Linked DNA regions of Homo sapiens. The protein of the gene in region 4 purifies or fractionates together with the protein of the main gene of each other region. This does not show direct contact. Each region holds a gene or a part of one and is shown on either strand. Other genes may lie near its edges.

Region 1 (6,901 bases), on a different chromosome or scaffold from region 4:
GGAGGTATGTGCTGCAACTCCTTCTAAACGGGACAAGAAAAGAGAGTGAATGGCCCAGATCAGGCTGGGTAAGTAAAGACTCAAAAGCCAGAGACAAGAGAAGAGAGAGAGGAGGGGACTAGTGTTTTGCTAGAGAATTTCCCTCCAGGATTCCGGGATAATTGGGCCTCTTCACTGCTTTCAAAATTGGCGAGGGCCTTAATAGTGCTTGGGTGGGTCTGAAGCCACTCCCCTCCCCCCTCAGGATTCTTGAGAAAGGGACAGAGAATTCCTCAAATCGGCCTTCCCTTTCTCTTTCCCACAGATCCTAATGGGACCATACTTCCTATATTCTCAGCCACCAGCGGGTGAGCATTTTGCTAATCCAGGCAGACTGGATGTGCTTCAGCTCTGTGGGCTTTAGGGCCTCACCCTCATGCCTAAGCCTCTTTGTCAGGCTGGAAACCTTTCCAATTACCTGTGGTCCCTGCTAAGTTCTTCCAATTCTACACTGTCTTCTAATTGTTGAGGTTCCCAGTTCAGAGCCAAGAAATGCATATAACCTAATGTCAGTGGTTAGTAGGGATGACCAGGAAGGTCCCTTCTAAGACACTCAGAGAGGGCTTCCTCCCTCCCGAAGTTGTAGAGAATTGTCAAGGGAGGTCTGGAGATGAGAAGAGCAATTTCAGACACTATCAGTGAGATGTAAAGTGGCACATTTTTTGGAAAGCATTTTGGCAACATGAATCCAGAACCTGGAATATGTCAGTTATTTCATTTCCAGGACTACCTCCCAAGTTAAAAATCAGAGACTCAGACAATGATTTGGGTACGAGGATATTAATCACACTATTTACAAAAGTAAAAGTTGGTGATGACTTGTAGGCTAGTAGTAGGCTAACCACGGGAGTATGGATAGGTAAACAATGTTATAGCCAAACCATGGACTATTACCAAAGTGACATTAAAAAGGTTATTTACTTGATTGTTTGAGACAGGGTCTCACTCTGTTGCCCAAGCTAGAGTGCAGTGACACAATCATAGTTCACTGCAGCCTCCACCTCCTGGCTCAAGTGATCCTCCCACTTCAGCCTCCCAGAGTCCTAGAATTACAGGAATTGTATCTATTTTTTATTACATGGAATGGTGTTAACTGAAAAAGGCAGGATACAACACAATTATAAAATATCCCACTTATATAAATGCAATATCCACCCCAGGTATAAAAATAAGGCTGAAAGAATACATAAAATATCTCCAGGTATTTACAGAGATGAGAAAAAAAGAGAATACACAAAATATACATTTGAATATAGAATTTATTTTTCTCTTAAACAGATGACCCCATAGAAAGTTTCCGTTATGGGATTCTGGGTGACTCATTTTCGTTTTTTTTTTTTTTGAGATGTACTTTCCATCTTGTTACCCAGGCTGGAGTGCAATGGCGCGATCTCCGCTCACTGAAACTTCCGCCTCCCAGGTTCAAGCGATTCTCCTGCCTCAGTCTCCTAAGTAGCTGGAATTACAGGCGCATGCCACCATGCCCTGCTCATTTTTTTGTATTTTTAGCAGAGACAGGTTTTCACCATGTTGGTCAGGCTTGTCTTACACTCCTGACCTCAGGTGATCAGCCCGCCTTGGCCTCCCAAAGTGCTGGGATTACAGGCGTGAGCCACCGTGCTCGGCCTTCTCTTTCATTTTCTAAGTTTTTTACTTTCCTATATTTATTAGGAAATTTAAAAATAATCTTAAGGATGACTGCCACATGCCAGCCATAATGGAGGATGGTCTTTCTTCTACCCTAGACATTTCACACTGAACAGGCCTCACTTGGATCTCGGACATCTTCCTTTCTGCACTGTGCAGATCCCCTCAGTATATGCAGAGAACAGAAAATCATTTTGCTGCCAGTGGAAGGTAGACAGAAGCTACGTTTATTGGGGAAGAAAATACCCTTGCTGTCAAACCATGGCCTGAAAATAAAGGCCTTGGATTACTCCCACCCATCTCCACTCCATGGGTGCAGAGAATGCTGAGGGTGCTTGCATACGAGACCATAAAGTTGTAAAGGATGCCTTCCAGCCCCCATTTGGTTTGTTATGGTGAGAGCTGGGGCCTCTGTGAGTGGCAAGCATCAAAACCCACGACCACAGCCGTTGGTACTGCTTTCAAAAGCATAGCACCCACCCTAATGCCCTGATAAAGGATTTGTCCAGTAGCCTGGGCGTCAGGATTCCTGGGCTCTAGGCCCCACAGGTGATTCACAGCTAGCCCCAGGCTGTGCCTCCTGGCCTCAGTTTTCCTGGCTTGCTCTATTGGTACTTCCTACCTACTCTGTGGGGTGTTAATAGGGGTGAGGTGCTTTGAACTTCTCAGATGAAAGAGGCTGGGAAGCAGCACCCAGTTATTATCCCCTTTACAGCCAGGCGTGGGAGCTGAGGTTGCTTTCATACTGTTCCAGCCACAGTAGCCTCCTCATAGCCCCTCATTCATCTGCCTTTGGCTCTGGCTGCCACAACCAGAAAGCAAAGCAGTCAGTCCTATTTCAATGCTGTTTCAGAACAGATGTCCCTAAATTAATTTGCCAACTGCCCAAACCACTGGTGAACTATCTATGATTCAGTAATACTTTACAGGTGCCTAATTTCTTTCTCCTGATTGGCTGCAAAACCTGTGGGACAAGGGCTGTGACTTCTCACCAATAAATATACCAAAGGAGGGATACTCGCAATTTAGTCAGCAAAATGGGTTATGAGAAAGCCAGGCTGACCAAAGTTCAAACTTCTCATCTTTCTGCTTCCTCACTGTAACACGGGCAATGGCTTATTAATTCTCCCCATCCTGTCTATCTCTAATGAGGATTGTGTGTGTGGAAGCACTCTAAAATACCAAGCACTTCATATGTGTTAATAAGTCCAAATGTGGCCGGGTGCAGTGGCTCACGCCTGTAATCCCAGCACTTTGGGAGGCCAAGGCGGGTAAATCATGAGGTCAGTAGTTCAAGACCAGCCTGAACAACATGGTGAAACCCCGTCTTTACTAAAAATACAAAAATTAGCCGGGCATGTGGTAGGCGCCTGTAATCCCAGCTACTCGGGAGGCTGAGGCAGAGAATTGCTTGAACCTGGGAGGCGGAGGTTGCAGTGAGCCGAGATTGTGCCACTGGACTCCAGCCTGGGCGACAGAGAGAGACTTTGTCTCCAAAAAAAGAAAGTCCAAATACATGCAAATAAAACTTGGCATAACAGTCTTGCCCAAGCCATCAGTCCTGCCCCTTCTGCCACCAGGTTACAACTGCAAAAAATTAGGTTGGGGTGCCACCTACTGGTTGAAAAATATATGAACTGCATCCAGCCAGTTGCAAGAGCAAAGAAAAAACTTCCAAGCCCTCTTGATTTTTGCCACACTCTCATAGGAACTGCCATATTATATAATTAATATTTTTCTTTACACAACTTACTATTTTTTTTTGAGACAGAGTCTTGCTCTGTCGCCCAGGTTGGAATGTAGGCACAATCTTGGCTCACTGCAACCTCCGCCTCCTGGGTTCAAGCAATTCTTCTGCCTCAGCCTCCCCAATAGCTGGGATTATAGGCGTGCAACACCATGCCCAGCTAATTTTTATGTTTTTAGTAGAGAGGGGTTTCACCATGTTGGCCAGGCTGGTCTCGAACTCCTGACCTCAGGTGATCCGCCCGCCTCAGCCTCCCAAAGTGCTGGGCTTACAGGCATGAGTGAACACGCCCAGCCTTGTATTTCATTTTTGAAGTACACCTTTTTTTTGAGACAAAGTCTCGCTCTGTCACCAGGCTGGAGTGCAGTGGTGCAATCTCAGCTCACTGTAACCTCTGACTCCTGGGTTCAAATGATTCTCCTGCCTCAGCCTCCCAAGTAGCTGGAACTACAGGTACGCGCCACCTATGCCCAGCTAATTAAAAAAATTTTTTGGTAGAGATGGGGTTTCACCATGTTGGCCAGGATGGTCTCGATCTCTTGACCTTGGGATCCGCCTGCCTCGGCCTCCCAAAGTGCTGGGATTACAGGCGTGAGCCACCGCACCCAGCCTTGAAGTAAACTTTTAACCACTACTGTAAATGGAAAACTAGTTAACACTTGTCAACAATAGAATAAAACCATAAAACAAATACAGTGAATATAAAACATTAACAAAGTTCTAGTTAGGAAGTGTTGCCTGTGAAAGCTGAAGCTTGAGGCTCTGTTAAAACTGAAAATTGTGGGACATGGTGGCTCACACCTGTAGTCCCAGTTACTCAGGCGTCTGAGGCGGGAAGATCACATGAGCCCAGGAGTTTGAGTCCAGCCTGGGCCATATAGCAAGACCCCATCTTTTAAAAAACAAACCTCAGAACCAAAAACTGAAGATTAATAAAAACACATGACTGGAGACTGAATGTAAATCCTATGTGACTGAATGTGAATTATATGCTTTGGGGAAATACTGATTATTCCAAGGCTAGGTGACACTCCCTCATTCTTCCCCAAACCCCTGGGCCCGGAAGACTGAAGAAAAGTTTGGAAGTCACAAAAAGTAGAAAATAAACTCTTGTATTGTAGCACATTTCATCACAGCCTGACTAGGACCAGTGCTCGACTTTCTGGTGGCAGGGCCCAGAGCTCACGGACACCACTGACAGTATGGGGGGTGTTCTGCTTGGCACCATGTCTGGCTTTTTGGCCAGAAGTCCTTTGCAGAGCTGAATATCCCCTTGCCAGCCCGCCAGCTCTGGCTGGGAGGACTTGCTCTTGGGTCTGCAGCCTGCATCAGGAGCCTCCACTTTCCCCAGTGCTGGATTATGCATCCTGCTCTCCAGGGTCCACCTTGTTGCTACAGCTGCATGGCTTCCTGCTCCACTGACTGGTTCGAGGGTGCCAGGTACTTCTCCTGGATGCCCAGTGTGCTGAGGAAGGGTGCGTCAAGGCTGATAGCATAGGCAGAGGATGGGGAGCTGGTCTGGGCAGGATCTGACTTCCGCTGATGCCTACACTCCAACCATGTCCATCCCTCTCTTCCTCATAATTATAGGGACCAATCAGGTATGAGAAGCCTCCAAAAACACCCAGACTCAAATGCTCCTCTATCTGCCTCTTCCACACACTGCTGCGGATCAAAGGACTGGACAGTACTAACCTTGCAATTTTGCGTTATGGCACATGCTCTGGAGCCAGACTAAGGGAGTTCAAAACCTGATGATGTCTGGGTCTGGGGTCTGACGAGGACATGGAGGTTAGCCATGGCTAGGTTGGCTATGTTAGGACACCATGGCTGTTGTACTACCAGATGGCTCCAAAGTAAGAAACAGATTCTACACCCACCAAAACCAAGGTTTGAACTGTTCTTCCAAAACATCCCGGGAGAGGGACCTTGGGCCTGTCGCCTCAATTATAAAAGGGGTTGAAATGAGGATTAAATGACCCTGCAAGTAAAGCACTTAGCCCACCAAATGATGTTCGAGTTACAGACCTTTCTTTTTCTTTTTTTTGAGACAGAGTCTCACTCTGTCACCAAGCTGGAGTGCAGTGGCGCGATCTCGGCTCACCGCAACCTCCAACTCCCTGGTTCAAGCAATTCTCCTGCCTCAGCCTCCAGAGTAGCTGGGACTACAGGTACATGCCAGCACACCCAGCTAATTTTTCTATTTTTAGTAGAGACAGGGTTTCACCATGTTGACAGAAATGGTCTCGATCTCCTGACCTCGTGATCCGCCCGCCTTGGCCTCCCAAAGTGCTGGGATTACAGGCGTAAGCCACCACGCCTGGCCAAAAATAAATTTTTATACTTTAAAAAAAAAAAAGAGAGAGAGATGGGGTCTCACTATGTTACCCAGTCTGGTCTCAAACTCCTGGCCTTGAGCAATCCTCCCACCTTTAACTCCCAAAGTGTTGGAATTACAGGCATGAAGCCATTACACTTGGCCCATGCCATCTTATTTGCAACCCTTGAAACCTGTCTCAACTTTGAACCCCTATGCCTTTGCATGTTCTCTTAACTTGAATTCCCTTTTCTTCTTCATTAGACTGGCTAACCCTCACCTTGAAATGACACAACTCACGTGTCATGCCTCCATAAAGCTTTCCTTACCCACCTACCCTTCAGCAAAGCTGACCACTCCCTTATTTGTATCAGTCCCTACTCTCTTACAGAGAGCTGCTGAATCTTAAGGGGGTTAGGGTCAGGGCAGAATCTAAAATCAGCACAAATGTATATGGTTAAAAATACTCTTTAAAATTCCTCAAATTATTTGTTAAATGCAGCATACATGGTTTTGTGAATAGAATCCTTTATATATACGAATACATAAAGTAACGTACAGATGCTCCTTGACTTATGATGGGGTTACATCCTGATAAACCCATCCTAAATCAAAAATATCTTAAGTCGAAAATGCATTTAATACACATAACCTACCACACATCATAGCTTAGTTTCGCCTACCTTAAATATTCTTAGAACACTTACGTTAGCTGCATTTGGGCAAAATTATCTAACACAAAGCCTATTTTACAATAAAGTATTGAATATCTCATGTAATTTATTGAATACTGTACTGAAAGTGAAAGAATGATTGATAGGTACCCAAAGTATGATTTCTACTGAATGCATATAGCTTTCACACCATCATAAAGTTGAGCCATCATAAGTTGGGAACCATCTGTACGGTGTACAAAATACTACATTATTTAAATTGCTTCTCCCAGCCTAGGCTGTATGGTGAAACCCCATCTCTACAAAAATTAGCTGGCCACAGTGGCACACGCCCATAGTCCTAGCTATTCAGGAGGCTGAAGTGGGAGGATCACTTGAGCCCAGGGAGGTCAAGGCTGCAGTGAGCTGAGATCACGCCACTGCACTCCAGCCTGGGCAACAGAGTGAGACTCTGCCTCACAAAATAAACAAACATAA
Region 2 (8,075 bases), on a different chromosome or scaffold from region 4:
GGGCCTGGTGGACAGCCGGCAGGAGGCACTCACTTGCTGGCTCCAGGCCTGGTAGTAGGCTCCCAGGAACAACAGGCAGGCAACGGGCACTGGGCCCACGGCTCTCCACATCTCAGGTCTGGACAGCAACTTCAAGGTCTGCCTTAGACACGGCTCAACAAGAGGCTGGAGCCCAGACACCTGTGTCCAAGTGACTAAGGAAGGGGTGGCCGAGAGGCTGGCCTCAGCAGAATCACTACAAAAGTGCCAAAGGGTGCCACAGTGAGGATCTGGCTGCCTCACGCCCCTTTACACTCCAGCCACCCCAGCCCTGTGGAGGAGCCCTCCACCTGTCCTGTGGGTCCTGGCTATAAACTACCTGATGGTTTCAGCAGGGGTACTGCCGGCTGCCAGGGTTAGCTGGGTGAGGAGAGTGAGCAGTGAGGCTATCCGCTGCATGGACAGGGGTTGAGGTGGGTGGGTGCTGAGCTCCCGCGGCACCACCTGCAAGGCCCGCATCAGCACTGGGTAGAGCTCCCTAGGGAAGAACAGGGACTGATTTTCACTGTATGAAAGCAAGTGGAGACATGAGACACAGGTCATGGCCCTGACCCAGGGATCTGCAGTTTGATAAAGGAGGATGAGGAGGAAGAGTGGGGCACTCTTGGAAGGCTCAGCCCTAAAGAATGGAAAGGATGTTGTCCTTCAAGGCTGCCCCCAACAGGGAATTTAAATGTGATTTCACAGATACCAATGCTTTTTTTTTTTTTTTTTTGAGACATTCTCTGTTGCCCAGGCTGGAGTGCAGTGGAGTGATGGAGTGATCTCGGCTCACTGCAACCTCTGCCTCCCAGGTTAAACCGGTTCTCCTGCCTCAGCCTGCCGAGTAGTTGGGATTACAGGTGTGTGCCACCACGCCTGGCTAATTTTTGTATTTTTAATAGAGACGGGGTTTCACCATATTGGCCAGGATGGTCTCGAACTCCTGACTTCGTGATACGCCTACCTTGGCATCCCAAAGTGCTGGGATTACAGGCATGAGCCACAGTGCCCGGCTAATGATTTTGAGCATAGAATACGGTTAAGCCAGGTTTATCCCCCTCTTCCCTGGCTGGGCCTGACTCCTAAGCCTTTTCACATCTGGCAGAAGCCCTCCCACTCATTCTTATCCTTCCTCCAAGCTTGGGACCTTGAGCAAGGCTGAGGTGTTTGATTTGGCCAGAAGAGCAGAACTGAAGGTGTCTAGGGGGAGCCTACCCCCTGCCTCTCCTCACCTGTAAAGGTAACCGCCCTGGCCATAGGAGGCAGCCACAGCCCACAGACGGAGGGCCTCGGTGCTCAGCATCTCAGCTTCCTCTGGGGGCAAGGCCAGTTCTTGGGGAGCCTCAGCTATGATGCGGCACAGGCGGCTCCGGAGATCAAAGCTGCTCAACTGGAAATGGGCACAGTCTGAGGATCAGGGTCAGCTGTGAGTCTCAAGTCCAGCTACTCTCAGCTGGACAGAGAGTGGCTTAACTCAACCCTGACCCAGGCCCCTCTGGTGCCACAAAGTCATACCTCATCCACCCTGCCCTTCCTTCTTATTATTTATTTAAAATTTCAATTTTATTATTTTACTTTTTATTATTTATTATTATTTTGAGATGGAGTCTTGCTCTGTTGCCCTGGCTGGAGTGCAGTGGAGTGATCTTGGCTCACCACAACTTCTGTCTCCCAGGTTCAAGAGACTCTCCTGCCTCAGCCTCCCAAGTAGCTGGGACTACAGGCATGCGCCACCATGCCCGACTAATTTTTGTATTTTTAGTAGAGACGGGGTTTCATTATGTTGGCCAGGCTGGTGTCGAACTGCTGACCTCGTGATTCACCCACCTCGGCCTTCCAAAACGTTGGGATTACAGGTGTGAGCCACCGCACCCAGCCCCTATTATTTTTTTATTTTTATTATTATTATTTTTTTAGATGGAGTCTCGCTCTGTCGCCCAGGCTGGAGTGCAGTGGCGCAATCTCGGCTCACTGCAATCTCTGCCCCTCCAGGTTTAAGCAATTCTCTGCCTCAGCCTCTGGAGTAGCCGGGATTACAGGCGCATGCCACCACGCCTGGCTAATTTTTTGTATTTTTAGTAGAGACAGGGTTTCACCATCTTGGTCAGGCTGGTCTTGAACTCCTGACCTCATGATCCACCTGCCTTGGCCTCCCAAAGTGCTGGGATTACAGGTGTGAGCCACCGCGCCCGGCCCTATTATTTGTTTTTAGATGGAATCTTGCTCTGCCACCCAGGCTGGAATGCAGTGGTGTGATCTTGGCTCACTCCACCCTCCATCTCCCGGGTTCAAGCAATTCTCCTGCCTCAGCCTCCCAAGTAGCTGGGACTACAGGCGCACACTATTATACCTGGCTAATTTTTGTAGTTTTAGTAGAGGTGGGGTTTTGCCATATTGGCCAGGCTGGTCTCGAACTCCTGACCTCAAGTGATCCACCACCTCGGTCTCCCAAAGTGTTGTGATTACAGGCGTGAGCCACTGCACCTGGCCAGTAGTAGTATTTTTGAGACGGGGTCTCGCCCTGTTGCCTAGGCTGTAGTGCAGTGATTGGTGCAACCAGCCCACTGCAGCCTCCACCTCCCAGCTCAAGTGATCCTTCTACCTCAGCCTACCGAGTAGCTGAGACTACAGTCATGTGCTACCACATCTAGCTAATTTTTTGTTTTTGTTTTTTGTAGAGACAGAGTCTTGCTATGTTGTCCAGGCTGGCCCCTGAACTCTTGGCCCCAAGTGATCCTCCTGCCTTGGCCTCCCAAAGTGCTGGGATTACAGGCCTGAGCCACTACACCCAGCCCTCCCTCTTTATAGCAAGGCTTGCTGGGCACCTTCTCTAGGGCTACTTGGCTATAGATGATGAATGCCTATGTGCATGAAGCCCTTCTGATCTGGGTCTAGGGAACAGGGAGACCTCCTATTACATCATGAGACCACAGTATACCTATATGATGCACCAGGCTCCAGTAAACAGGCTCCAGTAAACAGGTTCATGCCTGGTGATTTCTGTTGCATTTCTAAGCAACTGGATCAGAGAGGAAGAAGATGGCAAGAGCTGGCCACCCAGAGTTCAGGAGCCATGTTTAGCTCCCAACCCAACCCTGTCCCATGCATTCCCCCATCCCTTGCCCTGTGTCCTGCTCACCAGCCGGGCAGCAATATTCCTCCCAGCTGAGGCCAGGACACGAAGTAGTTTCATGGCAGTAGCACAGGGTACTTTGTATAGACTAGGGGTAGGCCCTGCCCCCACAGGAGACCAACTGGTGGGCAAGAACTCTCGAACTATAGTCTCTATCAGCCGAGGGCACTCCAGGACCTATGGGAGACAGGAGGTAAAAGGGAGGAAGGGAGGCTGTGGGTCAAGACAAGGCCCAGCTAGGCTTTTTGCCCATTCCCTGCTCCCTTTTTTCTCACCCTTGTGGCTGATTCCAGGGAATGCCGGGCCAGGCGGATGAGCACAGCCAGGATGTCAAGGACCACCGCAGGTCCTGGGTATGTCACCTCCAGCACGTAGCGCAGCCGAGGCAGCAGGCTGGTAGCCAGGAGCCCCTGGGAGTTGGAGAGAGAAACCCACTGACAAATGCAGCTGGACCCTGGGCATTGATGGCCCCTCTTTCCAGCATGTGCTTGTCCCCTGGGCCATGGGATGGGAAAGAAGCTGTCCCTTTACCTTGATGACATCATGTCGGGCCAGGTCAGGTGGAGGCCGGCTTTCTTCTTCAGGGCTTTTCCTTTTTGCTTTTCCTGCTGGGCATTCTTCATCCTCGTCCTCATCCTCCTTGTCCTCCTGGCTGGGCATCAGAGGGAACGTCAAAGCTCCATGGTACCAAGAGAAGGTGCTGTCGAGGAGCTCCTGCCAGAGGAACGGGAGTTGGGGGGCAATGCTGAAGGGGCCAGGAAATGGATCCAGGAGTAGAGAGGATGCTCCCCAATAAAAACCATAAAGGCAAGCCTCCTGGGCTTTAGGGACTTTAGGAGATGAGGGAGACGCCTGCCATCCCATTCTACATCTTGCCCGCAAAGCCTTAGCAATGGGGCCATGCCCAGGAACAGGAATATGGACCCTGGCACCTCCCAGCCCAAGCCCCATTCCTATCCCTGTGGTACCTCATCTCCAGGAGCCACCAGCAGAGCCCGAAGAGCACGGATGGCGGTTGCAATGACCCCATCCACTCTGTCATCCAAGGAGAAGCGCAGTAGGAAGAGGAAACCAGCATCCAAAAGGAGGCTTAAGACACTGCCTGCTAGCCGGTCCCCAAACTCACCAGCCTGGGCCTGAGGGCAGGAGGGTAAAACCTTGCTGAAGATGCTGAAGTTATCTAGAGGCTTTGCCCTAATCCTTCGTTTGCCCCCCTATGATCCTAGGTTGTTAAAAGCACATAGCTGGCTAGTGAGCCAGAGTGAAAAGGGCAGGAGATGGGGAAGTCTGAGGCTGTGGGGTGAAGGGAAGGGTGGGCAGGACCAGGCTGGCAATCCACTCACCCTGCTGATGACCTGGGCTAACACATGCAGTGCCAGTGCTCTCTGCTGGGAAACCTGGCTGCGGGTCAGGTGGAACAGCTCCTGTAGGGAATACCCCGCTCTCTGGGGCAGGGACAAGAAGTCAGAAGCAGCCAGGATACAGCACAGTGCCCCCAAAACACCAAGCAAGGTATCACAGGAAAGACAAAGATAAATAAGTGAAATCTGCCCTGCTTTCCATGGAGCCTCAAGCCGGTAAAGATAAGACTTGCATACAAGTAACCATGCCATGAGGCAGATGCAGAGGAACGTGATAACTGATGTTTAATTTGCGACCGGCGGACAGGAGAGAGAGAGAAGGGAACCTGGAAAATTAAATTGGTCTCAGTGGATGGGTAGAGCTTTGATGGCCTGACATGGAGCAAAAGGCAAAGGCATTTCCTGGAGCGAGTGGAGTCCTGGAGGGCCCTGAGCACAGGAGGTATGTGGGGAGAAGCCAGCAGAGTGGTGTAGCAGGAAGTGAAGGAGGCAGAGCAGCAGGGTCAGCAGGGACAAAAGGTAGAAGGAATATCTTGCCCAGCTGAGACCAGAACCTTATTTTGTGAGCAGAGGGAAGCTGGGAAACTTCTGGAGGCAAGGCATGGCCTGAGCTGGGCCAGAAGAAATCAGCACAGCAGCCCCGAGAGACATGGAATGGCAGGGGGGCGGAGAATGGAGGGCATGGAGAGTGAGCAGACCAAGGAAGCAAGGCCACAGTGCAGGAGGCATCATGAGGAGGTGACAGAAGATCGGCAAATTCTAGCAACTGACCAGAATACGGAGAGAGGATCAAGATTTTGAGCCTAAGAAACTGAATGCCACGCCTGTAATCCCAGCACTTTGGGAGGCCGAGGCAGGCGGATCACAAGCTCAGGAGATCAAGACCATCCTGGCTAACATGGTGAAACCCCGTCTCTACTAAAAATACAAAAATTAGCTGGACGTGGTGGCATGCGCCTGTAATCCCAGCTAGTCAGGAGGCTGAGGCAGGAGAATGGCTTGAACCCAGGAGGTGGAGGCTGCAGTGAGCCAAGATCATACCACTGCACTCCAGCCTGGGCCAGAGCGAGATTCTGTCTCCAAAAAAAGAAACTGAATGCACAGCAAAGGCATGAACTAGAACAGGGCACACAGAAGGTCAAAGGCAGTTGACCAGAGATCCTTTTCCATGGGGTTGTTAAAAGAGCTGCCCCATCCTCTCCAGTCCCATGCCTCACCTCTGCCTCCTCTCCATGGTGGTGCAGACCCAGGTGGGTGGGCAGGTCCACGTCAGGGGCCAGTAGTTCTCCCTGAAGACTGAATCGAGCCTGCATCCTCTAATGGGAAGAGAAAGAGGACTGTGGTCTGGGGGCTCCAGCAACCTTCCCACACCCACTCCCCACCTTTAATCCCAGGCCTTTCAGGACTTAGGTACTGACTCTACTTCTACCAGAAATGGGGCTTATCTGGCCTTGGGGGCCAGGCAGAGTGATGGTAAAGGTGGGTGAGAGCAAAGGAGAGATGCTTCTCAGGCTCTGGGCAATAGAAAGGCCTGAGTTCTGAGGGCAAGAGCAGCAGCTCCTCTCCTGCCCTATCTCACCCACCCCTTGTAGGCCAGGTGGCCCTCCTCACCTCCTGTGTCTGCTGCCGCCGGACAGGGGGCAAGTCCTGGGTCCAGTGGAGCTTCTCCAGCTCGACAGTGTCCATGTGCAGCCATTCTTTCTGAGGGGTCACGGGCAATGCCAGAGCTGGGGAGACAAAGCATGATAGTATTACCCAAACGGCTCAGCTCACTATCCACAGGGGTCCCCACCATCACCCAGCAGCTGCCACATCCACTTCTGTTCCAGGATCTGCCAGCTTCTACCCTCGGTTATGGCTAAATGGCATGGCCCAGGGACTGGAACTCCTGGGGCTGGGGTGAAAGTCTCAAATATGACAGACACACTCCATCCTGGGCTCCAGCCCCTTGCTGACCCCAAGGATTTGTTGGGAGGGGAGAGAGGAGGAGAAGGAGAAGGAAGAAAGAGAAAGAAAGGAGAAAAAGATGAAGAAGGAGGACCACATATGTCAGGAAGGCACCATCTCCACTTTCCAGTACCAGCCCTTAAAGGAGTAGGAGAGTGGGGACAATGAGGAGGAGGCAACTATACTGCTCCTGGGGGGCAGGATACAGAAACAAATCCCACAGCATTTTCCTCCTTCACGCCTACCCCCACCCAACCTGCTCAGCTGGCCTGGAGCTCCTCCGGGGGCATGAGGTTCCTGGCTCTCATAATTCAATTTCTTATTTTGTTAATCACTAATGAAATAATCTAGTTTCTGGGAAATGAGTGCTTCCACTGGCCTCTCTGCTTCTGGTCTGGCATGTTCATAAGATCTTTGTCAGATTCTGCCTCTCTTATTACTCTGGCCCTGCCATCTTTCCCCCAGCACTGTGAGCAGAGAGAGAAAGAACAGTGGGATGGACAGAGCCAGAGCTGGGGCAGCTACAGCAAGGACAGGAAGATAGTCTGCCGGGAGCGGGTGGAGTGGGATTCAGCCATCACGCATTGCTGCCTCTTAAAAGGGAAGGCGGAGAAGGGGCAGTAACAGGACAAGAAAACAGGAAGCATGTGCAGGAAGAAGACATGCATCAGCAATGAAGACTGACTTGAAGCCAATAATGAGGATTAATGTTAGATGTCCAAAAGCACAGAAGCTTCTCTCTTCTCTCATTTGCCAGGCCTAGGAAAAGGGACAATTTCCCCTACTTTTATCCACCAAAATATGACCCCCGCCTCCTGCAAACCTGGGGCTTCTGGCTCCAGCTTGTCTCTCTTCCTGGGCTCACTGGCAAAAGCTGACATGAGGGGTTCCTCCTTGGTGACATTAGCAGAGGGTCCTCCTGGCCTCTGCTCCTCAGAGGCTGTCTCTCCTGTTTGCTCTTGCGTGTGGCTGTGAGATCTCAAGAAAGCAACCAAGCTGGGGTCTAGAGGCGAAGGTAGAGGGGAGAGTGAGTGAGGGTAGATCCTCCCTGGCCTCCTACAGACCTGGAACCCGCTGAATATCGCCTGTCTGTGGGTGCCAAGGACAGGACAAGCTGCTTCCGAGCCTGGGCCTGAGCCTTCTGGGTGCTCCTGTGGCCCATCAATGACCCAGCCTTCTCACACCTGTGGGGTCACTAGGCCCACCTGCCCACCTGCCCACCTTTCCCTCTATCCCTCACAGTCCACTGGCCCAGGTTCCTATGCCTATCCCTTTGGTTTCAGGTCACAGTTCCAATGTAAGTGGCTGTAGAATGAATAAGTTAATGTTGACTAGGGCCAAAAAGAAGGCATTTACAGAAAGAATTTCCTTCTCTTAGCTAATTTATTTATGCACACACACATATATATATATATATATATATATATATTTTTTTTTTTTTTTTTTTTTTTTTTTTTTTGAGACGGAATCTCGCTGTGTCGCCCGGGCTGGAGTGCAGTGGTGCAATCTCAACTTACTGCAACCTCCATCTCCCAGGTTCAAGGGATTCTCCTGCCTCAGCCTCCTGAGTAGCTGGGATTAAAAGTGCCTGCCACCACGCCTGGCTAATTTTT
Region 3 (8,075 bases), on a different chromosome or scaffold from region 4:
AACATTTCTGGTACTGGAAAGGTGTTCATCAATATCTACTGCATAAACAGTGCCATCATGGAACCTATAACTAGCTCAGAACGGCTATGTTTTAGATGATTATTTTTAAAAAGTTAGAAATCGCAAATATAAAAGCTAAGCCCAAACAAAAAAAGCTAAGCATAAAAACGTAAAAGAATACCAACTGTGATAAGAAGGACAAAAAAACAATACCTTTGTAATGTAAGACATTTATTTTGGCTAAAGTTCTGGTGTTTTAACACTGATTTGTGATACAACGGACATTAAACTTCCTTTTAAAAAGAAAAAAACAATTTGGTAGCTCTCCCTTTTCTGTCCAGAAAAATTCACTCTTTCATAATCAAATTACCCTAAAATTTGGTGGCGTTAAGAGGCAACAAAAGTTAAGCTTCCAACGAATCTGTTCTCTCAACCGGAAATGTCTTCTATTTCCAATCAGGATAAAACCTTGACTTACTTGCAAGGACTATCACGGTTAGCCCTTCAGTGATTCCTGACACCAGTTCTGTGAAAAAGAAAATTTCCTGCGAGAAAAGCTCATGTCTTCATATTGAAGATCAGTACTTTTTTTTTTTTTTTTCCTTTAAAACAGTAGCATCTTAACTTGTGGCACAAAAGGCACCAACATTCCCTTTCCAAACCATCCATCACCATGGGTGGAAGGCAGCGCCACCTGCTGCCCATCATATTATGGCTCACATACCCATAATTTCCTTGCGGTGCTGAATTCCAAGTGGGGATTATTAGAGACCCCTCAGAGCCAAAAGGGGACCTTAGAGGTCTTCTAGATGAGTCCCCTCATTTGTAGGTGGTGGTTTCTGGATAACTCAGAGTGGCAGGGACACAGACGAGCCTGTGGAAAGGTATACTGCTTTAAGATTGAGAAGAAAACCATTTGGCGCTCTAATTTTGCCTGGATGGTGCTCTGTCAGTCAAAGAAAGGGAACAGGTCTGGGGAGGGGGTAAGGGCACCCTGAGTTCCTGTTCCATCACTTCCCAGGCAGTAGAAGGCTGTCCAGGAACAGCTCCCATCCGCAGCTGGGCATGTGTTGGCTCTTACACAAGAGACTTTAATTTTACTTGAAGAACTAAGAGCTAAATCTTGTTAAGTAAATACGGGGTTTCAGGGGTGAAGGACTATCAAGAAATCCCAAGTTATCAGCATAAAAGTAGTCCCAAAGTAAAGGCAGTAATTCTCCCAATGGCCTTTTCTCCCTCATGCCCCCACAGAGACTTTCGAGAGGTCCTAGTTAGCCAGCCACACCAACCTGCTGTGTTCGCGTAAGTAGCTGTGCCTGTCCCATGGGGTGACCACTGCCTGGTCATGGGAGGGGAGCCCCAGCCCCAGCTCCCTAGCCTTTTCCAGGAGCAGAGCAGAAAGCTCTACTTCGGGGTGCTACATCCCACCTGGAGAAAGAGCTGCACATTCTAGCCTATGAGGGACCCACCCTTTTCACTTGCTTCTCCGGGGCTGGATTGAGGGTAAGTGCAGTACACCTGGAGATCCCAGGGAGCCCCCTTCTTGAGAAAGAGTATCGTATGAAAGAATCCAGCTTCAGGGAGCAGCAAACCCAAAATCTTGCCCAGCTCCACCTTATGGAGCTGGACAACCCTGGGGGCCAGGCCCTTAATCATTCTGAACCTCAGTTCCTTTTTTTTAAAAAAGGTCACAATACAAGAACAAGCTCTACTAACTTTACAGGGTTACTGTGAGGCTCAAGTTAGATTAAGTTGGAAGGCTACCTAGAAGCTGTGCAGTGAGGTACCCAGTTTAGAGGATGGCCATTTCACTTAGGTGGGTTTATCTGGACACCTTTTTCACTATCTGGAGAAGAAGACACATACTGGTTGTTCAGGGCTGCTGTGGTCACAGAGAAAAGCGGACAGCAAATGACCAGGCTGGGCAGGGCTGCTTCTGTGTGATCAGAGACCTTCCCAGCCGGGAGTGAGGCCTTACGCCACACCTGCCTCTCCGTGTCCCAGCCAGGAGCTCCTGGCCAACTCTGAAAAAGGCACATTCCCTACCTTGGCATATTAACACTGCCTGAATTTAAATGTAAAACTGAGTTGTAAATAGTCAACAAAAGTCCCTGATATTTCTTTCGTTTTAGGTAAGACTCCTTCACAAGGCCTTGCGAGTGATCCTACCATGAATTCAGTCTTCTGGGAGCGTGACACACCCACCAGAACAATGCCCTATATATATTTGGTGCTCAAAAAGTGTTTACTTTCTTAAACTTTTATCAGACACCTATGTGCAAGGTGCTGGGGGCATGGCTGAGGACCTTCTCTTTGCCCAGAGTGACCCTGAAGATAAATAGCATCACAATCACTTTCCATAATAACAATAACGTAAAATCCTAACAAGACTGTATTTAAAACAAAACTCTTATATTCTGGCAAATGTGCATACACATGTGAGGGCTGGTGCATTCCAATATCATCCTTAGAAAGTCTTTTGAAAGGTTTATCGTGTTTGGGTTTTTTTGCTCTACCACCAATAAAGGATCCATTTGGACACTCCGCCATGTCTCATGTCTGCCTGGCTGAGTCACTTCAGGGATCCCGTGCTGGCACCAGAGAGCTGTAAGAGCCACCTGCAATGGGCAGGGTGTGTGCCTGGGACCTTTCACTTCCCTGCTTGTCTTCTGGCCGCGTTTCTGAGAGGCACGCCCCCCACACACATCCATGCACACACGCTGTAATTGGCCAACTTCCTCCTTCTGTTCTTGGAATAGCAACCGAGACAAAAAGCAGTTAGCACGAGTGGCTTGGGCTTGCCAACACTACAATTCAGGACAAAACCCTTGTAATTCTCCAAATGGTGGGGTTTTTAAATAGGTTGGACTTCAACTCCCTGTTTTCTAAAAAAGAAAAAAAAAAAAGCATGCCCAAGGCATCACTCTTCTCAAAAACGAAGTGACTGAGATAAGATCGAAGGGAAATATTCCAGAGCAGCAGATTCTGAACTCAAGGCTTCCAAAGATTCACATTTTGAAAACTCTATGGATTTAGGAGGGTTCTCCAGGTTTGCCCACAAGGCCTCTTTGTGTAGGGACCATTCATCCTAAGGAAATCATTCAAATGCAGCCTTGCTGTGGGAATCTCCATCCACTAATAACTGACGGACACCCCCACCCCAGCTTCGGACCTCAAGACGTGAGAGGGCTGCCTATGCACAGGGTGTGGAAGGCTGTGGGGACAGTGCAGGGCACAGACGTGGTGGGGAGAGTGGCCTGCATTTGCATAGTTCCTTTACTAGGGCTCAAGGTGTTGAGGTCCACACTCAAGAGAGGATTCGGGAGTTGGGGAAGGGAGGTCATGAGGGACCTCTGTGAGCATCTTAGGCCTTACACTTCCACACACCTCCTGCCGTGGGCCATCGGGAAGCATGCAGGCCACAGGCCTTCCCCCTCTGAGCCCCCATCTCAGGGAAAAGACATCATAAGTTACAGAAACAGGACAACTGGGGAGCAAGGACGCCCCCCTTGGCAAGCTTCTTTATGTGCTCCCCAGGGTGGGGAAAGTGGCCCAGGACTGTGTTGGGACACACTTGTAGACAAGTGCCTTGTGATGCTGGGAGCAGGGTACAGTGTGTTTCCTAAACATGGCAGCTCGGGACACCTTTGCCCACGGCCTCCCCCACGGACCTCTCGAGCAGAGGTGGTGGGGGTGCCCTAGGGTTTCAACTTCCCCTCCTTGGCTAGTCTGTCATTGAGCTGGCAGAGCTGGGCCAGGAAGCCATCGTTGGGGCCGATCTCACGGTTCTGCCTCACGATGCTCAGGGCAGACTTGACGTCCATCTTCTGCCGCATCATGAGGTAGGCGATAACTAGCGTTGGGGAGCGGCTATAACCTTCCCGGCAGTGGACGAGCACCCGGCCTGTAAGAAACAGGGGAGACGTGGTGAGCTGGGGGCGTCCCATCACACCATGGCGTTGGTCAAGACTCTTCCGTGAAGTGCCACTTAAAAGCACAATGTCACGCCACTGTGTGCCTGTCAGAATGGCTAAAATGAAAAGGATGGAAAACCCAAAGTGCTGGTGAAGATATGGGGCAACTGGAACTCTTCTGCGTGGCTGGGGGAGGTGAGGCGTGAATTGGCACAACCACTTTGGAAAGCTGTGCGGCACGGCGGTATCTCCTCAAGCTGAACACGTGCATCCCCTCTGGCCCAGCAATCCCACTCCCAGGCCCAGGTCCAATAGAGATACGCATTCACATTCACGAACATGGGCCAGAATGTTCACAGGCAACACTGCACATCATGGCCCACAGTTAGAAACCCCCAAAGGCCCATCCACAGTAGAAAGGACAAATACAAAGAATGACCAGACTGCCACTTAGCAGAAGCAACACGGAGGCAGCACACACATATGAGGTGGATGAGCCCACAGAGTAGGAAAGCGGGCAAAACCATCTGTGCTGTCAGAAGCCTGCAAGGGGCTGGGCACAGTGGCTCACGCCTGTAATCCCAGCACTTTGGGAGGCCAAGGCAACTGGATCACAAGGTCAGGAGTTCGAGACCAGACTGGCCAACATAGTGAAATCCCGTCTTTACTAAAGATACAAAAAAATAGCTGGGTGTGGTGGCGCGAGCCTATAATCCCAGCTACTCAGGAGGCTGAGGCCAGAGAATTGCTTGAACCCAGGAGGCAGAGGTTGCGGTGAGGTGAGATTGTGCTGAGATTGTGCTCCAGCCTGGGTGACAGAGCGAGACTCTGTCTCAAAAAAAAAAAGAAGCCCGCGTGGCAGAGGCCCTGGGAGCTGGGGATGGGGGTGGTGGAGCATAGAGACTGGGGGTGCTTTCCAGGGTGCTGGTAGTGTTTTGTTTCTTTTTTTTTGAGATGGAGTTTCCTTCTTGTTGCCCAGGCTGGAGTGCAGTGGCGCGATCTCGGCTCACTTCAGCCTCCGCCTCCCGGGTTCAAGCAATTCTCCTGCCTCAGCCTCCTGAGTAGCTGGGACTACAGGCGCATGCCACCATGCCCAGCTAATTTTTTTGTATCTTTTAGTAGAGGTGGGGTTATTTTAATATAGTGTGTGTGTGCGTGTATATATATGTGTGTGTGTGTGTGTGTGTGTGTGTGTGTATGTGTGTGTATATATATATATATAAATAGACACCATCTCTCAATATCCACAGGGCAGATTGGCTCCAGGACCTCCTGCCGATACCCAAATCCACAGATGCTCAAGTCCCTGATTATAAAATGACATCATATATGCAAATAACCTCTGCACAGCACATCCTCCCCTATACTTTAAATCATCTCCAGATGACTTATGATACCCAAGACAATGTAAACATTTATTAGATTATATCATCTAGAGAATAATGACAAGAAAAAAAATCTGTACATGTTCAGTACAGACATAACATCTTTTTATGTTGTTTTTAATATTTTTCAGACTGAGGTTAGTTGAATCCACAGATGTGGAACCCACGGATATGGAGGACCGACTGTATATTCTATTGGTTCTGTTTTTTCTAGAGAATCCTGACCAATACACTGGTTATTAACTCATGATCCACCTAACCTCAAGGTGCCTCAGTTTTCTTATCTGGCCAATAGTACCCATTGCACAAGGTGGTTAGATTAAAGGAGAGGACACATGAATCCTCTAGGTTAGCACCTGGCATCCATGTGCACTCAATAAATGTTACCCAATACTGGGCATCCTCTGGTAGCACCTAGTACACCCTCAACTACAGCAGCCCTGGTCCTGTGTCATTGCCAGACATGCGCAGATTGACTTTTCTCTCCCAGAGGACGAATTCTTTAAGAGCAAGAAATGGCCGGACACGGTGGCTCACACCTATAATCCCAACACTTTGGGAGGTCGAGGTGGGCGGATCCCCTGAAGTCAGGAGTTCGAGACCATCCTGGCCAACATGGCGAAACCCCGTTTCTACTAAAAATACAAAAAATTAGCTGGGCATGGTGGCACATGCCTGTAATCCCAGCTACTCAGAAAGCTGAGGCAGGAGAATCACTTGAACCTGGGAGGTGGAGGGTGCAGTGAGCTGAGATTGAGCCACTGTACTCCAGCCTGGGTGACAAGAGCGAGACTCCGTCTCAAAAAAAAAAAAAAAAAAAGGCAAGAAATGTGGGGCATTGATTTTTGGATGCGTTACAATCTCTAGCATACACTATGTGCTCAATAAATATTTGCTGACTAGCTGAGTGAATTATTACCTACTAACACCTCTATAAGGCCATTGTTTGGCAAGGAATCTGCTAGCCCAGAGTCCAACAGAGTCTCTTCTGCTCCTATCACCCTACCCCCAAAACACCACTCTATTTTCCCAATGCCTTCCAAATCAGGAAGCAGGAGTCCTCCACTTTCTTGCCCATTCACCCTCCGGCCTGTATGCCCGAAATATTCAGAGTGGGGCTTCCCCTGCCCCACCCTAGGAATGAGACCCTCTGCAGAGCAGCCACCTTACCATCTAGAACATACTCTGCATGCCCAGTGCACACAGAGCCTACTGGGAAAGGGGCCAGTTCAACCTCCCATTCCTCTAGGCTCAGCCCAGATGCCACCTCCTCCATGAAGCTGTTTTCCCAGCTAGAAGTGACTGCTCCCTCTTGAGTACCCTCAGCCATCCCACCCAGCTCTCAGTGATGGGTCCCTGGGCCCCACACACTGTTGGAGGCCAGCATGTTTCTGTTGACTCACTTCGCCACTCATTCTTAGAAGCATTTATACTTGGCATTAGAGCCCATGGAATTCTTCATCACTTGCTCATTCATCATTTGCAGTGTACCTACTATGTGCCTGATGCTACATCAGGTGCTAAGGAGACAGACAAGGAACAAAGTAGACCCAGCCTGAGGGCAGGCTTCATGGAAGAGAGGACACCATGCCAAGGACAAGGTGGAGTTTGCCAGAGGAAGGGGTAGGGAGAGGCAGAGAGAACTTTTCAGACTAAAGACCCAGCACACCTGGACTGAGACAGGTCAAAAAAAGGGCGTGTTCCTAGTTGTTTGGAAAGAGGAAACAAAGTCAGAGAGCTTGAAATTCCCTGAATGAATAACCAATTGCTATTATACGAGAACAACAAAATCCTTCCCCTTCGCCCAGCCTATGTTTACACAGGGTGAGGAACTCAGTACAGCTGGAGTGGAGGAGGTGAGCAGGGTTGGGGGGTGACAGTGACCAGGAAGGACCATGAGGGGCCTGTCAGCAAAGTCTGCAGATACTCCACAGTAAAGCTTCTCTCTGAGCCCTGAGCGTTCACTGTCCAGTGGTCTAGAAAATTCTGTTTACTGGAAATCATTCAGACAGTGAGCCTGCTGGGCCCAAGAGTCATCAGTGTAGTACAGCCAAGGCTGTTCACACCTCATGGGGGTCCCCTCCGCTGGGAGGGTTTGGGGTGGGGAGAGACGAAGAGGTAAAGGGAGGAGCTGAGAGAAACAGCTAAAAGCAGAAAGGGAGAAAGGGCAAGTGGCCCAGCCTGCTCAGCTGATGTCTGCTTTGTGGCCTTCTAGGGTTTCTTGCTGGAATGCCTTGGTGACTGCCAGCGCCTTGGTAGTTCTCCTTCAGTCTTATCTTATATTTGGGGGCTGCAGGAAGTGTTTCGTAAGTGGCTGGAAGATTTGGCCAGGGGGGCTGTGGTTTGCTGACTGCCAACCTAAGCTGACCGCAGCTACCCCTTTTCTCCTTGCCAGGCAATCACGTGAATCTCTAGCCAATGAGATGTGAGGGGTATTTCTGGGAAATGTTTTACTTGTTCTTAAAGAGAGAGACTGGGCATGGTGGCACGTGCTTGTAGTCCCAGCTACTCAGGAGGCTGAGGTGAGAGGACTGCTTGAGCCCAGGAGTTGGAGACCAGTCTAGACAACATAGCAAGACCCTGTCTCTTTAAAAAAGAGAGAGAGAGTGGCCAGGCGCGGTGGCTCATGCCTGTAATCCCAGCACTTTGGGAGGCAGAGGGAGGCGGATCACCTGAGGTCAGGAGTTGGAGACCAGCCTGACCAACATGGTGAAACCCCATCTCTACTAAAAATACAAAATTAGCCAGGCGTGGGGGCGCATGCCTGTAATCCCAG
Region 4 (8,810 bases):
GGGTAGTTCAACCGCTGAGATTGATTGATTGATTGATTGACTGAGATGGAGTCCTGCTCTGTTACCTAGGCTGGAGTGCAGTGGCACAATCTCGGCTCACTGCAACCTCCGCCTCCCGGGTTCAAGCGATTCTCCTGCCTCAGCCTCCCGAGTAGCTGGGACTACAGCACATGCCACCATGCCTAGCTAATTTTTGTATTTTTAGTAGAAACAGGGCTTCACCATGTTTGCCAGGCTGGTCTTGAACTCCTGACCTCGTGATCACCCTGCCTCGGCTTTTCTTTGCTGTGGCTCTTTCCCCTCTAAACTGTTCTAGATTCCCAGGCGCCCTGCTAGGAACAGGTGTGGGCCACCCTGGGGTGAGCTGCCTCCCAGAGGCCTGGAAGGACCAGGCCTTGCCAATCACCGACAAGGGACGTAGAAGAGCACCCCCAAAGGACAGTAGGTCCCCGCCCGGATCTGGCCCACAGCACCCGAGGGACCCTGCAGCACTACAGAAGTCCCATGGGGCAGACGGGAGCCACAGGCCCAGACTCCACAGCCCCTCAGTCCACATGTCCTGGAGCCTGTGGTGGAAGTCCCTGTTCTTCCATCACCGCCGCCTCTCCCTGAGGACCTCCGAAGAAACAGGCCAGGGCTGTCCCAGGCCTGGGCACACGGGCCAGTGTCCAGCCCACCCCGTCTGCCCCTCCAGGCCCCGCCCTCACCCGGAAGCGCTCCTCCAGCAGGGACAGCTCACTGATGAGGTCGGTGATGGCGTTGGTAAAGGCTTCCTGGGGGCTGTAGTCCGGCGTGGTCTGCACTCGGATGATGATCTTGTGCTCCAAGGGGTGGGGGACTTTGTAGCCAGCAAATAGCACTTGCGGGTCTTTTAGGAGTTGTCTGAGGTCCAGGGACAGACAGTGTGAGGGTCTAGCCTCATGCCCAAGCTGGGTAGCAGCCAGCTCAGAGCAGAAGAACAGACTTTCTAGCCAAAAATCCCCCCCAACTTTTTTCCCAAAAAGTCTTCAAGGAAAGTAACACTTTTAGGAAGATACCTCATGTGGGGACACCCTATCCCCGCCACACACACACACTCTGCATCCATGAGGTTGAAGGACCCGAGCTGGAAAGAGATTCCAGCAACCTCTTCCCACCGGGCACCGCAGTGCTGGCAAAGAGATCTCCCAGGCAGTGAATGTCCAGCCAGTGTTCAGTGACTCAGACCCAAAAAGCCCACAAAGAGCCTCCACGCAGCAAATAAAGGCAGCAGGAGAGGAGGGCCAGCTCCCGGCAGTGAGTGGAATGCAAATGGAACTCTGCCCTCCGAGCAGCACAGCCGCCAGCGGCTGGCCACGCACACTGGGCCTTGTGCCATGGGGCTGCATCGCGTACTGTGCCCTGGGCATGCAGGGGTCTCCTCTAGAGTGGCTCAGAGTGGCGTGAGCACCACAAGGGGGACCCGTGCATAGGTGGCAACACTGAGCTCAAGAGCAGGGGAGCAGCAGGGCCCCAGGAGAGCTTGGGTGCCCCACTGGCTGGGCTCCGGGCAGGATTCCTCCATCCCCGTGCCTGACCACACCAGGAGACTGGGCAGACCCCACTCACAGACGGGGAAAAGCCTGGCTTCGCTGGTGGCACCAGAGGGAAGAGCCAAGTCTACAGTAAAATGGCAAGTCCCTGGGCCAGAATGGCAGACACATCCCTGACCAACCACCTGGCTAGGACCTCACTGGTATAAACAAACACCCACCAACCAATGCAGGGTGCCCATTAGGGGCACTGGATAGCCACAGAACTCCTACTTCTTTCTCTTGTTAAATAGAAGTTCTAGTCTCTGCCACATACATCTTAGAGGCCCAGGTGGCACTGAGGTCACAAACGGGTGGCATGAGGGGAGCTAATCTTGACTGCTTTTCAATGTCCCTCAGCATGAATAACAAACAGGCCTACTGTGCTGGAATCTGCTGCTCGTTCATTTACAGAATGTGCACTTAATGGTGAATGTAAGGCCGGGCGCAGTAGCTCACGTCTCTAATCCCAGCACTTTGGGAAGCCAGCAGGTGGATCACCTGAGGTCAGGAGTTCGAGACCAGCCTGGCCAACACAGTGAATCCCCGTCTCTACTAAAAACACAAAAATTAGCCGGGCATCGTGGCGTGGGCCTGTAGTCCCAGCTACTAGGAAGGCTGAAGCAGGAGAATCACTTGAACCCGGGAGGCGGAGGTTGCAGTGAGCAAGATCGTGCCATTGCACTCCAGCCTGGGCAACAAAGAGAGAAAATTCCATCTCAAAAACAAACAAACAAACAAACAGTGAATGTAAATGCACGTGTTCATCTACAGAATAAGCCACTACAGAAGTGTGGCTTATGTGAAGACATGGAGGTCGGTGTCATTTTGATAAAAAGGTACCAAGATTATAAAATGCCCAGAGCAAGCCCCCAGAAGGACTTCCTGTAGCTCAGAGAGACTGAGGAAGACTTGGAACTTGTGCTTTGCCCAGAGGGGCCCATTAAACATAGCCCCTGAGAGCCTGTGACGGGAAACTTACGATTTAATGATGTTTCCCAGTGTGTGGTCTTCTTTGTTGATGGTGAATAAACAGGCATTGGGTACCTTGGTGTCCTTGTTAATGGTGATCCTAGGAAGACACAGAGGCCACAGATGAGGAGCAGGGGCTCCCCTCCTCCCACCCTGAGTCTAAACCCTGTCTCCTCCCGGCCAGGTGTGGTGGCTCGTGTCTGTAATCCCAACACTTTGGGAGGCTGAGGTGGATGGATGACCTGAGGTCAGAAGTTCAAGACCAGCCTGCCCAACATGGCAAAACCCTGTCTGTACTAAAAATACAAAGAAAAAAAAAAAATTAGCTGAGTGTGGTGATCCATGCCTGTAGTCCTAGCTACTTGGGAGACTGAGGCAGGAGAATCACCTGAACCTGGGAGGTGGAGTTGCAGTGAGCCGAGATCATGCCACTGCACTCCAGCCTGGGCAACAGAGTGGAACTCTGTATCAAAAATATAAAAATAAAAAGGAAAAATAAGCTCTGCCTCTTCCTGAAGGCCTTTCTCAATCTCTTCATCCCATAAAGGCCTCGCCAACCCGGTCCCCTACTTCCTGCTACCCCAGGTCTATGGAACCTTGGCCTTTTCTGAATTCCTCCTTTTTTTTTTCCGGTAGAGATGGGGTTTTGCCTTGTTGTCCTCGCTGGTCTTGAACTCCTCGCCTCAAATGATCTCTCCTGCTGCCCAGGCTGGAGTGCAGTGGTGTGATCATAGCTCACTGCAGCCTCCAACTCCTCGGCTAAAGTGATCCTCCCGCCTTAGCCTCCTGAGTAGCTGGGACCACAGGCGCACGTCATCATGCCTGGCCTGTTCCTTTTTTCTTACGCCAACATAATGAAGCAACCAAAAGGTGAAGAAGAGAGGCCCTGAAGTTACACGGTGAGGCTGGTCCTGACCCTGTGAGTTCCGAAAGCAACCATCCCCCTGGCTGGAGTGTGCAGTCCTTCCATCCATTCCCCAAAACAAGTCATGCTCTGGCATTTACTATGATTTTAGTGAACGCTTAGATGGACAAAGACAGGAAACTTCCATTGGATTTTCCAAGACAAGGGGTTTTCAGAGTGCAGTTCCCAGATAAGCAGCATCAGAATCCCCTGGGAACTTGTTAAGAGTCTCCCACCTCCCACTTACTGGACCCAGAACTCTGGAGGTGGGGCGCAGGGATCTATGGTTTAAGAAGCCCTTCAGGTGATTCTAATGCACACTCAATTTGAGGGCAACTATGCTGACAGTAAAATCTCACACAGGTGAGAGGTATCAAGTTGAATATCCTTTTTTCTAAGGTGGTTTCTCCAGGCTGACACCACACACATTTTAGGGTGCATCATTCTTTCCTGTGGGGTGCTGTCTTGTGGACATTGTAGGACATCAGCAGCATCCCTGACCTCTACCCAGTAGATTCCAGTCATAACCCCCTTTGACAACCAATAATGTTCTCAGTTATTGCCACATGTCCCTTGTGGGGCCAAATGGTCCCCAGTTGAGAGTCTGCTCTAAAGGAGGCCGAAGTGGCTGGCAAGGGCCAGACCAAGACCTCTGCACGCCAACCTGGGAACAATAAGAGCCAATGGTTATGAGGTTTTCCAGGGGCTGAGCTTTGGACCAAGAGTTTTACACAAATTACCTCATCCAATTCTTTTTATTTTGAGACAGGATTGCGCTCAGTCGCCCAGGCTGGAGTGCAGTGATGCGATCAAAGCTCACTGCAGCCTGGAACTCCTGTGCTCAGCTCAAGCAATCCTCCCACCTGAGCCTCCCAAAGTGCCGGGATTAAAAGCGTGAACCAGCGCACCTGGCCAGATCCCTTTTTTTGTTTTTTGAAACGGAGTTTCGCTCTTGTTGCTCAGGCTGGAGTGCAATGGCGTGATCTCCGCTCACCTCAACCTCCACTTCCCAGGTTCAAGTGATTCTCCTGCCTCAGCCTTCTGAGTAGCTGGGATTACAGGCATCTGCCACCACGCCCGGCTAATTTTGTATTTTTAGTAGAGACAGGGTTTCTCCATGTTGGTCAGGCTGGTCTTGAACTCCCGACCTCAGGTGATCCGCCCGCCTCGGGCTCCCAAAGTGCTGGGATTACAGGTGTCAGCCACCGCACCCGGCCTGAATCCCACGTTTAAGTACAGTAATAAACTCATTTTCCAGATGAGGAAACAGGGCCTCCGACAGATCAAGCCACTCGCCCACAGATACAGAGTGAGCCCAAGCTCTCTCCCCTGGACTCCTTCAACCCGCAGGCAGCGAGGAGCCACTGCGGCTTTTACGCAGGCCGCTGACAGATCGGAGGGGATGAAGGATGGAGGTGGCGGGCGAGAGACAAAAAGAGGAAGCTGCCAGATCCCAGAGGAAAAGGGCTATGGAGAACCAGACACTCTGGGTTCGAATACAAGCGCCGCCACTTCCTGTGTCCGGGGCAACTTGCTCGCCTCCAAGCCTCAGTGTCCTCATCTGCAAAATGAACACACTCGCGACTGCCTCGCGGAACGGCCTTAAATTTGGCTGACACAGGCCGAGCAGACGATCAAGCAAAAGCTGTTTCCCTCCCGGGGCAAGAGATGGGCAGGAGACACCCCAGAATGCGACAGCCGCAGGCCCGCGCACCTCGGCCCTCCGCAGCCGGCGTCACTTACTTCTCGCCCTCGAAGAGCAAGAACGACTCGAAGGCTGGAGGGGCGTTCATGCTCCCGCCGCCGTTGCGTCCAGACCCCAAGTGTCCGCCACCGCCGCCACCAGAGCCCTAATAAGAGGCCTCTTCCGGATTACTCCGGCGGGGCAAACCCGCGCAAGGATCGGCTCATCGCCCCCTGTTGGGCTGGAGGATCTTGCGCAGGCGCGAGAAAACCCCGAGCGAGACCAGTGTCTCTGCGCATGCGTCAGTGGCGAGCGCACCGCCCCCCCCCCCCCCCACCCCCCCACCCCGCACCCCGGCATGGCTTTCCCCGTGGGCGCTTTTCGGCGCATGCTCAGAGCGCCGGCAGGGCTGTTCTGCCCCTACAGAGGCCTCCTAGTCCTGGCTGAGCGGGAACCTCAAGCTGTACCTTTCTCCTTTCCCCATGTCCCTTGATCTCTCTTTGGAAACGTGCACCCCCTTGGAGTGCGCAGCAGGAGGCCCCTGAATAGAGAGAATAAAGCTAAGGGGTAGTGGACAGCTGCGGCTAGCAGCCGTAGGGGGAGCAGAAGATCTCGTGGCCAGAGGCAGATCTATGACAAGCCCCCTGCCCAGGCTGCCTATACCGACTGCTGCAGGACCTCTGCCTGGGGGGTGCAGCTGGCTTGTTAGCCGGGAGGGACAATTGGGTGAGGGATGCAGAAGGAGGCAGGTGTATACAGCAGTGAGAGGGGAGCCCGTAGGGTTACGTATATCTTTTTATATATTATTATTATTATTTAGAGACAGCGTCTCCCTCTGTCGCCCAGGCTGAAGTACAGTGGCGCCATCATGCAGCCTCCAACTCCTGGGCTCCAGAGATCCTCCTGCCTCAGCCTCCCGATAGTTAGGACTGCAGGCATGTGCCATCACACTTAGCTATTTTTTTTTTTATTTTTGGAGATGGTGGGGGGGGGGGTCTCCCTATGTTGCCCAGGCTGGTATTGAACTCCTGGCCTCCAGCAGTCCTCCAGCCTCAGCCTCCCAAAGTGCACTTGGTGGATGTGGGCAGCAAGCCACCCAGGTGCCGAGGCAAGAGACCGAGGGCACGAGCTGTTCCAGTATAATAAAATATATAAAATAAGAATAGTTATACTAGATATAGATCTGAGATATGATTATATATGAATCATTAATCATTAGTTTGTAGTAATTATTCTTTATTCCAATATTATAATAATCCTCGCTCTACAATCATAACCTAGGAAAAACCAGGCCATACAGAGATGGGAGCTGAGGGGACAGTGAGGAGTGACCAGAAGACAAGAGTGCAAGCTTTCTGTTATGCCCGGACAGGGCCACCAGAGGGCTCCTTGGTCTAGCGGTAACGCCAGCATCTGGGAAGACACCTGTTGCCAAGCCCACCGTGGTCTAGCTGTAGCGTTAGTGTCAAGGAAAAACACCCGCTACTTAGCAGACCGGGAAAGGGAGTCTCCCTTTCCCCGGGGGAGTTTAGAGAAGACTCTACTCCTCCACAGGCCCGCCCACAGTTACCCGGAGGCATAACCGTCTCCCTGTGATGCTGTGCTTCAGTGGTCACGCTCCTAGTCCACCTTCATGTTCCATCCTGTACACCTGGCTCTGCCTTCTAGATAGCAGTAGCAAATTAGTGAAAGTACTAAAAGTCTCTGATAAGCAGAAATAATGGTGTAAGCTGTCTCTCTCTCTTTCTCCTCTCTCTCTCTGCCTCGGCTGCCAGGCAGGGAAGGGCCCCTGTCCAGTGGACACGTGACCCATGTGGCCTTACCTATCATTGGAGATGGCTCACTCTCCTTATCCTGCCCCTTTGTCTTGTATCCAATAAATATCAGCGCAGCCTGGCATTCAGGGCCACTACTGGTCTCTGCGTCTTGGTGGTAGTGGTCCCCCCAGCCCAGCTGTCTTTTATCTCTTTGTCTTGTGTCTTTATTTCTGCGCTCTCTCGTCTCTGCACATGGAGAGAAACCCACCGACCCTGTGGGGCTGGACCCTACAGGTGGATAAGTGTATCTTACCCTTTTTGGTTTGGTTGCTTTGCAGACTACAGTTTAGCATAAAGGCCCTCCTTAAGCTGTTTGAAGCAACAGGGACTGGGGTCTCAGAGGAGCTACCAGGGCCCTAACAGTTTGGCAGCTGTTTCTCCAAGGCTGGGCAGCAGCTACAGTGCTGAGGAAATCTGGAGCATCTACCCCTTCTGGGAAGGCCCATTTCCTACTTGAGTTCTTGCACCCTGGCAGGAGGAAATCTCATTCTGCAACAGCCCCACACAGAATCTGACTTTCCAGGCGAAGTGGGTGGGCACCTCTTTAACTGCTGAGGAACAGAAAGTGATATGGGTAGGCTGGGTGCGGTGACTCACGCCTGTAATCCTAGCACTTTGGCACTTTGAGAGGCTGAGGCAGGCGGATCACTTGAGGTCAGGAGTTAGAGACCAGCCTGGCCAACATGGTGAAACCTCATCTCTACTAAAAATACAAAAAATTAGTCGGGCGTGGTGGTGGGCACCTGTAATCCCAGCTACTTGGGAGGCAGAGGCAGGAGAATCGCTTGAACCCGGGAGGCGGAGGTTGCAGTGAGCCGAGATTGCGCCACTGCACTCAGCCTCCCAAAGTACTGGGATTACAGGCGTGAGCCACTGTTCCTAGCCAAGGGTAGCATCCTTGACCCAAGCTTTTCCAGGGTGACCCAGAAGTGTGGAGGTTATATCCTCAGGGAATTATTACCCTTATCACTTTTTTTCTTTTTTTCTCTTTTTTTCTTTTTTTTTTTGAGATAGCATCTCGCTCTGTCGCCCAGGCTGGAGTGCAGTGGCATGATCTCGGCTCTGTTGTCTAGGCTGGAGTGCAGTGGTGAGATCATAGCTCACTGCAGCTTCAAGCTCCTGGGCTCAAGCAGTCCTCCTGCCTCAGCCTCCCCAGTACCTGGGACCACAGGCAGGCACCACGGCGCCCTGCTAGTTTTTTTCTTTTTACTTTTTGTAGCGATGGGGTCCAACTTTATTGCCTAGGCTGGTCTCGAACTCCTGACCTCAAGCAATCTTCTCGCCTTGGCCTCTCAAAGTGCTGGGATTATAGGCATGAGCCCTGCCCCTGGCCACACATACCATGCTAATTTGTTACACATTGGCTGTGGTTGCTTTCATGCTACATGGCATGGTGGTTGTGACTGAGAGCTGCATGTCTGGTCCTTTACAGAAAACGTTTGCTGATCCTAATCTTGGGGATTGTGCCTGTGTTGACTTTGCTATTTATTGTTTGGTTACAGCCCAGACACTGAAGTTACTTATTAGCTTGTGGGTGTCTATCCCGTAGAAAAGAAAACTTCATGGCCGGGCGCAGTGGCTCACACCTGTAATCCCAGCACTTTGGGAGGCCGAGGTGGGCAGATCACGAGGTCAGGAGATGGAGACGATCCTGGCCAACATGGTGAAACCCCATCTCTACTAAAAATACAAAAATTAGCTGGGTGTGGCGGTGAGCACCTGTAATCCCAGCTACTCGGGAGGCTGAGGCAGGAGAATTGCTTGAACCCGGGAGGCAGAAGTTGCAGTGAGCCAAGATCGCACCACTGTACTCCAGCCTGGACGACAGAATGAGCCTCCGTCTCAAAAAAAACAAAAAACAAAAAAAAAAAAAAAGAAAAGAA

What was found.
Region 1: the proteins of POLR2J3 (region 4) and GPN2 purify together in Homo sapiens (affinity purification with mass spectrometry, with the first as the bait; one large-scale study listed by BioGRID). This does not show direct contact.
Region 2: the proteins of POLR2J3 (region 4) and RPAP1 purify together in Homo sapiens (affinity purification with mass spectrometry, with the first as the bait; one large-scale study listed by BioGRID). This does not show direct contact.
Region 3: the proteins of POLR2J3 (region 4) and DUSP3 purify together in Homo sapiens (affinity purification with mass spectrometry, with the first as the bait; one large-scale study listed by BioGRID). This does not show direct contact.

Annotation. Positions count from the first base shown.
Region 1 is NC_000001.11:26,874,852-26,881,752, forward strand, and holds the end of GPN2 (GPN-loop GTPase 2), read right to left. Parts: intron 4,899-6,901; coding exon 4,826-4,898; 3' UTR 1,281-4,825; downstream 1-1,280. UniProt on the Homo sapiens protein: Small GTPase required for proper localization of RNA polymerase II and III (RNAPII and RNAPIII). May act at an RNAP assembly step prior to nuclear import.
Region 2 is NC_000015.10:41,523,738-41,531,812, forward strand, and holds part of RPAP1 (RNA polymerase II-associated protein 1), read right to left. Parts: intron 7,466-8,075; coding exon 7,286-7,465; intron 6,243-7,285; coding exon 6,127-6,242; intron 5,832-6,126; coding exon 5,733-5,831; intron 4,600-5,732; coding exon 4,498-4,599; intron 4,291-4,497; coding exon 4,123-4,290; intron 3,869-4,122; coding exon 3,686-3,868; intron 3,565-3,685; coding exon 3,430-3,564; intron 3,332-3,429; coding exon 3,161-3,331; intron 1,412-3,160; coding exon 1,254-1,411; intron 518-1,253; coding exon 359-517; intron 236-358; coding exon 34-235; intron 1-33. UniProt on the Homo sapiens protein: Forms an interface between the RNA polymerase II enzyme and chaperone/scaffolding protein, suggesting that it is required to connect RNA polymerase II to regulators of protein complex formation.
Region 3 is NC_000017.11:43,765,911-43,773,985, forward strand, and holds the end of DUSP3 (dual specificity protein phosphatase 3), read right to left. Parts: intron 3,905-8,075; coding exon 3,699-3,904; 3' UTR 215-3,698; downstream 1-214. UniProt on the Homo sapiens protein: Shows activity both for tyrosine-protein phosphate and serine-protein phosphate, but displays a strong preference toward phosphotyrosines. Specifically dephosphorylates and inactivates ERK1 and ERK2.
Region 4 is NC_000007.14:102,567,303-102,576,112, forward strand, and holds the start of POLR2J3 (DNA-directed RNA polymerase II subunit RPB11-b2), read right to left. Parts: upstream 5,282-8,810; 5' UTR 5,220-5,281; coding exon 5,170-5,219; intron 2,623-5,169; coding exon 2,533-2,622; intron 883-2,532; coding exon 708-882; intron 1-707. Other genes in the region: uncharacterized protein LOC124901712, read right to left, coding at 6,505-6,622. UniProt on the Homo sapiens protein: DNA-dependent RNA polymerase catalyzes the transcription of DNA into RNA using the four ribonucleoside triphosphates as substrates. Component of RNA polymerase II which synthesizes mRNA precursors and many functional non-coding RNAs.